Homo sapiens: one gene and its partner. Each later gene encodes a partner of the first gene's protein in a complex. Each region holds a gene or a part of one and is shown on either strand. Other genes may lie near its edges.

Region 1 (5,408 bases):
AAATTATTTTCTGGAGGAAAATTAAACACCTTCTAAAAACCTAAAGGCAGATGAAGCTCACAGGTGAAAGTCACTCCACTCTGGGGCTCCAGAAGGCTGAGTCTTAGTCAACATGACTTTTTTTTTCTTTTCAGAGACAGGGTCTCATTCTGTCACCCAGTCTGAAGTACAGTGGTACAATCTTGGCTCACTGCACACCCCGCCTCCCAGGCTCAAGCGATCCTCCTCCATCAGCCTCCCGAATAGCTGGGGCTACAGGCAAGTGCCACCAGGCTCAGCTACTTTTTGTATTTTTTGTAGAGATGGGGTTTTGCCATGTTGCTCAGGCTGGTCTCAAACTCCTGGGCTCAAACGATCCTCCTGCCTCAGCCTCTCAAAGTGCAAGGCTTATGGGTGTGAGCCACCACACCCAGTCTTCTACATGGTTTTTCTGAAAGCTCTGATTACATGCTGAATTTACAAATGGTGGAAAACAAGGAGTAATGGTTAATAAGCTGAATGGTACAGTACAAATTACACAAGGAACAATACATGAATTAGAAATTTAAAATTTAGTTGAAATATAAAATAAATTATTGCCAGAAACACAAAGGGCACATGAATACAATAGGGGAAACAGCTTAATGGCTTTCTGTTCTCTGAAAACTCAAGGCCCATCTCTGAGTGATAAGAGTACCCTAACAGGCAAAGCCCTCTGAGGTCCGGGACCAGGAAGACAGTGCTACTCCACCTACTGGCGGTCTGGCACTATCTGTAGGCTGGAGTTGGGCTGGGGATGGTACATTCAAAATGGACTTTGGTAAACTAGGGGACAACCCAGACAAACACTGCAGAAAGGAGGAAGGACTCCCTTTCCAGCATCTCAAATTCAAGGCTCCAAGTTACTGGGCTTGGGCAAAGTCACACATTTTCTCAACAAAGGCCAACTGCTGACAATCCAAATTTTAAAAACACTGCCATTAGGCCAGGCGCAGTGGCTCACGCCTGTAATCCCAGCACTTTGGGAGGCTGAGGCAGGTGGATCACGAGGTCAGGAGTTCCAGACCAGCCTGGCCAACATAGTGAAACCCCATCTCTACTAAAAATACAAAAAATTAGCTGAGCGTGGTGGAGGGCGCCTGTAATCCCAGCTACAGGGGAGGCTGAGACAGGAGAATCGCTTGCACCTGGAAGGCGGAGGCTGCAGTGAGCCAGGATCGCGCCACTGCACTCCAGGCCAGATGACAGTGTGAGGCTTCATCTCAAAAACGAACAAAAAACCCACTGCCATTAAAAGCTTTATTTTATTTACTTATTTTTTAGAGACAGGGTCTTGCTATGTTACCCAGGCTGGCCTTGAACTTCTGGGCTCCAGCCATCCTCCTGCCTCAGCCTCCTGAGTAGCTGGAACACAGATGTGCACCACCACCACACGCAGGAAGAGCTTTATTTTAGAAAGTACTCTTCCTACATGTGAAGTCTCCAAGAATAAAGAAAAGAAAGTACTCGTCTTTGGCAAACAGTGGAGATCTTCTGAACCTTTTTTGAGATGGAGTTTCACTCATCGCCCTGGCTGGAGTAGCAATAGCACAATCTTGGCTCACTGCAACCTCTGCCTCCCGGGTTCAAGCAATTCTGCTGCCTTAGCCTCCTGAGTAGCTGGAATTACAGGTGCCTGCCACCAGGCCCGGCTAATTTTTTTTTTTTTTTTTAGTAGAGATGGGGTTTCACCATGTTGACCAGGTTGGTCTTGAACTACTGACCTCAGGTGATCCACCTGCCTCAGCCTTCCAAAGTGCTGGGATTACAGGCATGAGCCACCGTGCCCGACCGAGTTCTTTTTTTAATGAAAAGAATTTGACATTCCTGCAGTAGATATAAGGCAGCAGAAACAGGAACTGTGCAGGCATGTGTAACAAGAATGCAGATGCCATTTATTTGGTCCATAAGTATAGTCGTTATTTGAGTTTTACAAAACATCGAATATAAATAACCTGAAACTGTAACAATACACAAAAATTGGCTTCTTACACAGACATACCAGGCGGTACAAACTGAAAACTTGAGTAAATTAACATTGTTTTACATTAATATACATAGTGCCATCTAACATTTAAAAACAAGTTTCAATGCATAGCACTCGATACTTCTTTGAATCTGTTTCAATCAGTTAAGAGTATGAAAATGGTTAGATCTAGGCTAAAAATAATTCTTCTTCTAGCCAAAAATAAAGGCATAATATTTATAACCAGGTATCAACTTTACTAAACCACAATATTTTGAAACTATTAATGATACCTACGGGTATTTACATTAAAAAGGCAACATGCATTGTGTTGTTTTATCTCATGACTGGTTATGCACACACTTTGTTCAAAGGGTTTTTAAAACTATATTCCTACTTTCAATACAGCATACTGCAATGTGTCTAACAGTTCTAGCAAAATGAATGCTTTCAAAGGGAGCAGAATCATTTTCAAGTCACTGCTGTCAATTTTTTCCCTTTGGAACAAAGGACATAACAATCTGGTTCTGCCCAGATAAACTAAATAGTAAGAGGGTTCTGTTTAGAGGCATTTCTGTTCAATCTAATGCTATGACATCATCAAGCTCTTCCTTCTGTTCTATACGTGACCTCTTTGCACTGAGATTCTCTTTCTCATCTAATTTCCTCTTGCGGCTTCTCTCTTCTTCACTGACGTCGGCATTATTTGAAGAATCTTCTTCATCTGAATCAACTATGAGAACGTCATCTTGCTCTTGAGCTTATTTCAGAAAAAAGGGAAAAAGAAAATGGGTAAAAGCGTGGGAGTTACCTGTGCTCACCTGTATTTTCTATAATTGAAAGCTGACTCTTCTAATACACACCAGACTTAAGAATGGCTGCATTTTCACTTTACACATTACGTATTTCCATACTGTTTTAAATGTTTTATATAAGAACCTATTTATTTTCTAATCAAAACAAAAAATTGTGACAAGCATTATGTAACTCAAAGTACTCATTACACATCCTTGATTCTACCTCCACATTCTCCAATAGAAAAGCAGAGGGTACATATTCTAATAATGGTAGTAGTGGTAACAATAGCAACAACAATACAGCACTTACAATGTGCCAGGAACTGTTCTGAGCACTGTGCATATGACAACTCATTTAATCATCACAACCCTATAAAGAAGATCACATGAGTATCTGCTTTCCAGGAAAGGAAACTCAGTGAATGACTTCCCAAGCTTACATAGTAGCAGAGGATGAAGCCAGGAACCATCCCCAATGCAGAACTGATACTAAAGGTGGTTTTATCTCCTCGTCCAACAAAATCAAAGGCAGAATACCTATCTTACTCATGGCTGTAACCTTGGAAACCTACCCACAGTAGAGAATCAATAAATGTACATTTCAAATTATGATTTTGGAAAATCTACCAGATAGTCTCTTCCTCAAAGGAAGATGACGGACCTTTCTAATTTCAGTGAGGGGGGAAAAAACAGGTTATGAACCAATGACCCAGGCCATAATCTGAATGTTCGTCTCCAAAATTCTCAAGAGAACATTAGAGCCAAGAGTAAACATATTCCAAAGAATGCCACAGACATAGGGTCAAAGAAATGAAAACAAAGAAGTCAAAATCTGGTAACCTTTAGTTTCCTAACTAAAGGAAGAAAGGGAGAGGAGTAAATATTCAAATCAGAATACAGTAAACAATCAGTTATTTGGAAAAATACCAAGCACCAGCACTGAAAATCCAGGGGAAAGGACTATACCCAAGTCATACTGGTGACAAGGAAACTCTAACATGCCTAAATTCCATACTTAACAAGCACCTGTTCACTCAAAATAGTCAGATGCATGGATTTATTGCTCCTTAAAACAAGCATACAAAACCCCAACCTGCTACTACATAGGCTGACTTTGCACACTAGTAAACTATCATTTCAAACTGTTAAAAACCAATTAACAAAAAATAACAAAGTGTTCTTATTTTCTGTAAGAAATTTCCATAAGAATTTCCCCCAGTCTTAAATGACTTGTTTGTTTGGAGCCGGAAGCCTCGCTCTGTCACCCAGGCTGGATGGAGTGCAGTGGCGCGATCCCAGCTCACTGCAACCTCCGCCTCCTGCCTCAGCCTCCCGAGTAGCTGGGACTACAGACGCATGCTGCCACGCCCAGCTAATTTTTTGTATTTTTAGTACAGATGGGATTTCCCTGTGTTGCCCAGGTTAGTGTCAAACTCCTGAGCTCAGGCGATCTGCCCGCCTCGGCCTCCCAAAGCGTTGGGGTTACAGGTGTGAGCCACCATGCCAGGCCTTAAATGACTTTTTTTTTTTTTTTTTTGAGACATGGTCTTGCTGTTGCCCAGGCTGCAGTGCAGTGGTGCAATCATGGCTCACTGCAGTGTCGAACTCCTGGGTTCAAGTGAACCACTTCAGCCTCCTGAGTAGCGGAGACTACAGGTACACGCTACCATGCGTGGTTAATTTTTTTTTTTCTTTGTAGAGATGGGGGTCTCTCATTGTGTTGCCCAGGCTGTTCTCCAACTCCTGGCCTCAAGTAATACTCCCATCTTGGCCTCTCAAAGTGCTGGGATTACAGGTGTAAGCCACCACACCCAGCCTTAAATGTCTTCATGGTTCATAAATTCAAAGCTCCATTACAACAATCAATACCAAACCAATACACACCTCTAGTAGTTTTATGGATTTATGGTCAATGTTCCTAATAATCAGTTTGTTTTTACTTCTGCTTTGTGGGTATTTAACAACCTGCTGGCTGGGGCCATACTCACCTGTGGAGGTGGAGGGCTGAGCTCCATCATCACTGCCATTGGTTATGCTTTTGGCAGCATCTTCAGCTTGTTTGGGCCCCACTTTTTCCGGGGCATCACCAACAACTTCAAATTCAACGTCCTTTCCTAGGTCTTCACTGTAGGAGAATCACACAGGTCACTGCTATGACTATTTAGAAAGCAAAGGAGCACCAGAGAAATCCTGTTGTTCCTCAAAGCATACACTATGTATACACCAAATATGTGGATTCTAATTTTTTTTTTAATTTTTATTTAAAAAAAAATGAGAGATAGGGTCTCATAATGTTGCCCAGGCTGGTCTTGAAATCTTGGGCTCAAGCCATCCTCCCACCTTGGTCTCCTAAAGTGCTGGGATTACAGGCGTGAGCCAACCATACCCACCTTGGATTCTAATTTTCAAAGCACTGAACTTATAATAAAAAAGACGGTACACAACAAATTTCTGTGATAATCAAAAACTCTACATGCACTTTCAAATCAGGGCAAGGTTTTGGTTTTTTGTTTCTTTAAAACAGTAAATAACTTTTATTGCTGAAGCATAAAACTGGGTCCAAAGCTTGGTGGCCTAAAGCAACTCTTGGACATTATTTCTTTAGCTACAATGCCAAAAAAAGATTT
Region 2 (7,037 bases), on another chromosome or scaffold:
CTACAAATATTCAAACCAGCTGAATTCCCCAGGTAAGGCCCCGTGTTATAAACAAACCACAAACATCAGACGTCAGACCGAGAGCTCAGTGACTGCAGGGTGCGTAGCCGGAAAAGCCAACAAGGCACTGGCACCGCAGAGTCGCTGGAGGGGTGGTGGGGGGCACTGCCGGCTCGGGGGGCCTTTGGAAGTCACCTCTAACTTCGATTCCCAGCCAACAGCGGCTGGAGTCCCACACGGACCTGGAGGGTGCCGAGCTCCCCTTCCCAGGGCCCTGGACCGCCCTCCCTGCATTCTTTGCTCCTTTGGGGAGCCCCGCCCTGCCCTCTTGGGACCCTGCACTTGGGCCACGGGGACCCAGCTCCAGCCACCGGGGGGTGCCAGGGCAGCAGGGCCAGCTCCAGCCCCAAGGCTTGAAACGAAACTGAGGAGGGCCAAGCTCGCTAGGATGGGGAGACTGGGTTGGGAGCCAGAGGTTGGAGGGCTGGGAGCACCGGGCTGTGTCCCCCAGGGCTTCCCATCTCTGTCCACTGTGCCTTCCTGCTGGGAGGTGACCGGCACCCAACTTCCCAGCCAGGCCACTTCCTGCAGTGGCTCAGGCAGCCCCAAGAGGCCTGGCCGGCCCAACCTTTGCAGAGGGCTCAGCGTCAGGACGGCTGCTGAGGCGCACAGCCTCCCCAGGACAGACCACACTCAGGTGGCCTCAGGACGAAGAATTCCAGACACAGGCTGCCCAGGGCCCTCTACCTGGCGCTAAGGGTCGGGGAAGCCCTGGAGGGCCACGGCTGTGGGCTCTCCCAGAAAAAGCACCTGGCGTTTGCCACGGGTGGTAGCAAGGCTGCCTCCTGAGGACACAAGGGACAGACACCTGAGGTGGCACCCTATGCACAGCGCAGCTCCATCCCTGTGACCTGGCCACTGAAGAGGGGAACCCCCGCCAGCAGGCTGCCCGGATAGGAGTCCTCAGGCAGCCCCCAGCCCTGGTCTGGACCTGGCCTTGTGGCCCCCAAGACAGCTGGCACCGGTGCAGTTGCCAGGGTCTCGATGCCAATCCCGACCTATGCAGATCTTAGCTGCCCAGCGCTCTACAGCCCGCAGATGCGGGGAGCACAGAAACCTCAGCAGCACTTTGTACACAGCCCTGTTTACAAAGATCCAGGGCAAGACAGAGCCTCACAGCCTGCGTGCATCCGAAGCAGATGGAGAGCCTGGTCCTGGCCCGCGGTGGGGCTGCAGGTGGGTGGGGAGGGCCGGGCACTGGGAGGCCGCCTCCTCTCACTTTCAATGATAATAATGCAACCAAAACCTTTATATAAACAGTTTATTTACTCTAAACAGCAACACAGACAAAACGCCATATAAACACAAAGGAAGTGGCGCAGAACCGAGATGCTGACCTGGGGTCTGAGGCTCAAAAGCAGCACAGCCCAGGTTCTAGAAGGTTCTAGAGAGGAGCGGCAGGAGGGAGGGTGCATTTCCATACAGCCAGCTGAGGCCAAGTGCAGCTCTGCACGGTGAGAAGCATGCCTGCATCCCAGAGCGAGGAACTCGCCCCTGGGGGACTTACCCAAGTATAAAAGTTTATAATTTTACAGCAGTTGAAATACTGACATCAATATTAAAATAAAAGCGAGTTTTACATAACAATCAAAAATACAAAAGACCGAAGGAAGAGACCCTGTATGGAAACGGGCAATTCAGCGAATCGAGACCGCACACCCGCGGCGGCAATGGAAGATGGCGCCCGCCCAACCCCCCCAGGTGACTAGTCATTGTATGGAGCAACTTTAGATTTGCAAAAATGTTGTAAACAAGTTCTTGCCAAACCAATCCCTTCCTTTTGACGATGCCACAAGGTCGCTGCTTATGAGGGCGCAAACTTCTTGGCTTGTGCTCGGACCCTTTTCTCGTACTCCACTCTGTTTTGGCTGAGGAGGTCAAAAGAGAAGAGACGTGTTAGAGGGCTGAGCTGCCTGGCCCTCACGCTCGCCCCGGAGCCAGCTGGGCAGACCAGGCTGCAGGATGGGACCTCCTGGGGGAGGGCAGTGTGGAGCTCGTCATAGTAACAGAAGCAGAAGCCCGGAGAAGCAGGGAGGCCTGCGTGGTGGGGAGCCCATGCTGGCTCTGACGTGGCTGAGACTGTCCCGTGGTCTGACGGGGGCAGAAGGGCAGGGAGGAGAGGAACCCACGCTGGGTGAACGTGGTGTTCAAGGGGGACAGAGGGGTCCCGCAGGGCTGCGAGGAGGGCTCAGGCCCAGAGGGCCCACGCCAGGGCCTGCAACATCGTTGCCGATGCCAAGTCTGGTCCTAACTAGTAATCAGCAGCTTCTCTTTTCTGTAGGTCTGGGGACAGTCCTAATAAACTGAAAACACTGACTGCTTGCCACTGTTTTTGTTAATTCCCAAAAATAGACACCAATTTCTGGAGGGTTTTTCCATGAGGCTCTCAGCCGCAGGGGCAAAGGTGTGGGAAGGCAGGCCTGGTTGAGAAGGCGTTGTGCCCGAGCTGGGCAGTGCAGGGGCATCAGCGAACAGGTCTGGAGCTGGGTAGAGTGAGGCTCAGCCTGCAAGCAGCTGCCCAGGAGAGTGGCATGGCACACACTGCCCGGGCAAAACAGGTGGGCGGGAGGGCGGCCGAGGCTGCACCTAGGGGCTGATGGGTCACAGGGTGCAGTGTGACCCTGAGGATGGGGGAACACCATGACATTTATGGAGGTGGCTCCTGGGGTCGCAGTCCTGCCAGTCTCGCCAGGATTGGACCTGGTCTGAGACACTGAGCCTCACTCTGCATGGTGGAACAGCCCAGGACGGCAGCAGCGCCGGTGCCACCCCCACCCACGCCAAGGGCCTGGACCGCAGCCCAGACCCCAGCGCCCTCCTTGGGCCACCAGCCGGCCCCAGGGCAGAGCAGCTCAGCTGGGTGGGCGTGGAAGGAACCAGAGGCGGTGGCTACACGTCCCAGCTCTTCCTTGACCAAGCAGAGGCCCCGAGAAAAGGCACCTGCCAGGGCAGGAACACGGTCCAAGGCCTCCAGGAAACCCAGGAAAAACGATCTGAAACCCGCACACATGCTTCACAAAGGGTGCTTTTCAAGCGGATGTGTGTAGGAGAAAGAACGTTTGTTTACGTGCACGCAAGTGTACAGTGCAGCCCAGCAGGCACCAAGCCCAGGAGACGCTGGGGAGAGTCACACGGGGCGGGGGACTGCAACCCTGCCCAGCCCACGCCGCAGATGGGAGCCACAGCCCAGCTCTGGAGATGGTCGGCAAATGGGGTGCAGGCCAGACAGAGCTCACGCCCACACCATGCTGGGGATGGCAGACCATCTAAGGGCTAGGCAGGAAAACATTTGCCTTTTGTTTTGTTTTTTTGAGACAGAGTCTGGCTCTGTTGCCCAGGCTGGAGTGCAGTGGCGTGATCTCGGCTCACTGTAAGCTCCGCCTCCCAGGTTCAAGCCATTCTCCTGCCTCAGCCTCCCGAGTAGCTGGGGTTACAGGTGTGCGCCACCACGCCCGGCTAATTTTTTTTATTTTTACTAGAGATGGGGTTTCACCGTGTTAGCCAGGATGGTCTCAATCTCCTGACCTCGTGATCTGCCCACCTTGGCCTCCCAAAGTGCTGGGATTACAGGCGTGAGCCACCGCGCCCGGCATGCTTTTTTTTTTTTTTTTGAGACAGGGTCTCACTTTGTCACCCAGGCTGCAATCTTGGCTCACTGCAGCATCAACCACCTGGGCTCAAGCAGTCCTCCCACCTCAGCCTCCCAAATAGCTGGGACTACAGGCATGCACCATCATCCCCGGCTTAATTTTTTTTTTTTTTTTTTTTTTAAAGAGAGCAGGTCTTGCCATGTGGCCCAGGCTGGTCTCCAACTCCTGGGCTCAGGTAACGTCCCACAGTGGCCTTGCAAAGTGCTGGGATTACAGGCATGAGCCACCACCCCTGGCAAATTTTTTAATTTTTTGTAGAGATAGGGTCTCGCTATGTTGCCCAGTCTAGTCATGAACTCCTGAGTTCAAGCAATCAGCCCACCTTGGCCTCCCAAAGTGTTGAGATTACAGGTGTTGGGCCACCACACTTGGCCTAGAAATCATTTTCCAGGCACGGTGGCTCATGCCTATAATCCCGGCACTTTGGGAGGCGAGGCGGGTGGATCACCTGAGGTCAGAAGTTCGAGACCAGCCTGGCCAACGTGGTGAAACACTGTCTTTACTAAAAATACAAAAATTAGTCAGGTGTGGTGGTGGGTGCCTGTAATCCCAGCTACTTGGGAGGCTGAGGCAGGAGAATCACTTGAACCCAGGAGGCAGAGGTTGTAGTGAGCTGAGATCACACCACTGCACTCCAGCCTGGGCGACAGAGTGAGACTCTGTTTAAAAAAAAAAAAAAAAAAAAAAAAGAAAACATTTTCTGCCTCAAGGGCCATGTGGACACCCACGAGCACTGTGGCTTCCTGTCCAAGGGAATGCATTTCACGGACTCCTAGGGCACAGCAGGCCAGCACACAAACCCAGGTCACGCCACGTCCCACGAGCCACTTCCAGCAATGGCTTGGCTGACTGAGCGGCTATGAGTTTTTTTTTTTTTTTGAGACAGGGTCTCGCTTTGTCAAGCAGGCTGGATTGCGGTGCTGCAATCTCAACTCACTGCGCATCAACCTCCTGGGCTCAAGCAGTCCTCCCACCTCAGCCTCCCAAATAGCTGGGACTACAGGTGTGCACCACCATGCAGGGGAGCCAGGCTGAGCCTGGGGTGGCTGCTGTGATACTTGCTCCCTGCCTGGGGCCTCTGTGCCACCCTCGGCCACCAGGGAGGGCACCTTGCAGACACCTGGGCTGGGCCCGCATCCAGGGAGAAACACATCTCTCCAAAACCACGTGCTTTTTTTTTTTTTGAGACAGCATTCCTCCGTCGCCAGGCTGGAGAGCAGTGGCAGGATCTCGGCTCACTGCAACTTCCGCCTCCCGGGTTCAAGTGATTCTCCTGTCTCAGCCTCCCAGGTAGCTGGGATTAGAGGCACCCACCACTACGCCCAACTAATTTTTTGTATTTTTAGTAGGGACGAGGGTTTCGCCATGTTGGCCAGGCTGGTCTCGAACTCCTGACCGCATGATTCACCCACCTCGGCCTCCCAAAGTGCTGGGATTACAAGCGTGAGCCACTGCGCCCGGCCGAAACCAGGTGCTTTTCCTCACGACCTGTGCAGGCCGGGCCTAAGGCAACCGGGACCCCTCAGCCTCCCCCCTCCTGACCAGGAGATGCACCCTGGAGGGAGAGGGCCTCTGATGCCCACAGTGGCAGGGATGTGTGGGGTGGCTGCAGGTGAGCCTTCTGGGTCCCTGGCCATTGGGGGCCCTGAGACCCCCTCAGAGGTGTGGGGACCCGTGGTGAGATGGGGCTGGGTTTCTCAACGCTGCAGGCGGAGCAGTGGGGGGTCGGAGGCCCCAACCCACCTTCTTATGGACCTGCCCAGAACAGCTGCAGAGGGAACAGGACAGGCGGGCGCATGGCCTCTGCTCAGGGCAGGGTCCTCCCTGCTTTCCCCAGCACTGTTTGGCTGTCGTCTGCATCCTAACTCACACCAGGCCCTCCTCGGTGCAGACAGGACCCCAGGCCCACGGGGACCCTTCTAGCCACAGCAGCACCTCACAGGGACAGGGTGGAAGCCCAGGGTCCGTGTGACAGCATCACGTCACTGAGCCCTGCTGGGCTGGGCCCCCCCACAGAAGGAACCAAGTTGTAGAGGGGATGGGGACAAGCAGCAAGGGCGGCGCGGGAGGCTGGGGTCCATGGGAGGCTGAGCCGGTGGAGAGGCCTCTCAGCATGGCCTCCTCTGGCACCCACGCCCAGGGTCCTTCCCCTCCTAGCTGGCCACAACTCACTGGGGCAGTGGCCCAAGACAGCCCGTCACCTGGCCTGCTCCCTCCCCGGGACACGGCTCCGGCGCCATCCATGCCCACCGCAGACGGTGTGCAACGGTGCCTGCTGCCCACAGGGTTTATGCCCCCCGACCTTCCCCACAGAGGCGTGGACCCTGGCTGTCCGTAGGGTGAGCCTGTGTCCTCCACTCCCGTCCTGCCAGGCGGCCTTGGCTGGGACGGGGAGGAGCTGCCACCAGCGGGGCCAGGGCTGCTACTAACCAGTAAATCGTGTAGGCCTCTGCTTGAGCTGGGTCTTGGATATTTGGTTCATTTAGAAGTTCCTGTATTCCTAATAGGATCTGTGCCAGAGACAAAAACACAAGACGGGTGTGAGCAGTTTGAAAGGGAGACACCGTGAGACTCGGCCTCAGCCACAGAGAATGACCACAGACCCACGTGTCCGGAGGGGAGACTAAGGCAGCCCTGCCGGTGCCAGAGGCGGAGGCCCCGTACCTGTTTGATTGTGATGGCTGGCCTCCAGTCCTTGTCCTCCTCTAAGATGGACAGGCACACTGTCCCCGAAGGGTACACATTCGGGTGAAATAATGGTGGTTCGAATTTACCTGGAGGAAGAGGAAGAAAGGAAGCACTTTTTGGAGGCAGGCACTGTCCCAGAGTCACGTCCTTCCCCACATCACCCTCCTCCCAACACTGGGGCCCCGGGTTGGTAGCCAGGTTATTTGGCCAAAAACTTTTCAAAAAAATTAAATTGTGGCCATGAGGAGACTAAAGGAAGACATATCCACCTTTGCACACAGGGAACAGAGCCTTGGGGACACGGCCGCAGCCGAGACGAAGCTGTGTCTCTCCCAGGACAGAACTCCCAGCACAGCCAGGCAGTCTGGGAACACAGGCCCCAGGGTGGCCACTTAACCTGTGGCCCCCACATCCTTTCCAGCTGGGCCAGACTCAGGGGAGATGGGAGGAGCTGCAGGAGACGTCCAGGGACATAGCCAACGCCCTTCCAGAGTCGGCTGTTCCGACGCAGACCCTCTGCTTCCAGGATATACGGGCTTTTAGGACCCTGTGTTATTTCTTTACAAAAAAGCAGAAAAGTTTGCCACCATTAGCCCCACCAGGGACCATCACAGTTGATATTCTAGGCTATTTCCCATC

The links.
Region 2: the proteins of UBA2 (region 1) and UBE2I are in contact, whole or in part, in a crystal structure (PDB 4W5V), measured with the Homo sapiens proteins. Residues at the interface, in NP_005490.1 of Homo sapiens: Asp479, Gln481, Gly485, Lys486, Gly487, Thr488, Ile489, Leu490, Ser492, Ser493, Glu494, Glu497, Thr498, Asn501, Phe509, Asp520, Asp521, Phe522; in NP_003336.1 of Homo sapiens: Ser2, Leu6, Arg13, Lys14, Arg17, Lys18, Val27, Lys30, Asn31, Asp33, Gly34, Thr35, Met36, Asn37, Leu38, Met39, Asp66.

Annotation. Positions count from the first base shown.
Region 1 is NC_000019.10:34,466,376-34,471,783, reverse strand, and holds the end of UBA2 (SUMO-activating enzyme subunit 2), read right to left. Parts: intron 4,907-5,408; coding exon 4,770-4,906; intron 2,745-4,769; coding exon 2,563-2,744; 3' UTR 533-2,562; downstream 1-532. UniProt on the Homo sapiens protein: The heterodimer acts as an E1 ligase for SUMO1, SUMO2, SUMO3, and probably SUMO4. It mediates ATP-dependent activation of SUMO proteins followed by formation of a thioester bond between a SUMO protein and a conserved active site cysteine residue on UBA2/SAE2.
Region 2 is NC_000016.10:1,319,621-1,326,657, reverse strand, and holds part of UBE2I (SUMO-conjugating enzyme UBC9), read right to left. Parts: intron 6,485-7,037; coding exon 6,375-6,484; intron 6,221-6,374; coding exon 6,141-6,220; coding exon of another isoform or gene 5,999-6,140; exon of another isoform or gene 1,929-5,998; coding exon 1,865-1,928; 3' UTR 1-1,864. UniProt on the Homo sapiens protein: Accepts the ubiquitin-like proteins SUMO1, SUMO2, SUMO3, SUMO4 and SUMO1P1/SUMO5 from the UBLE1A-UBLE1B E1 complex and catalyzes their covalent attachment to other proteins with the help of an E3 ligase such as RANBP2, CBX4 and ZNF451.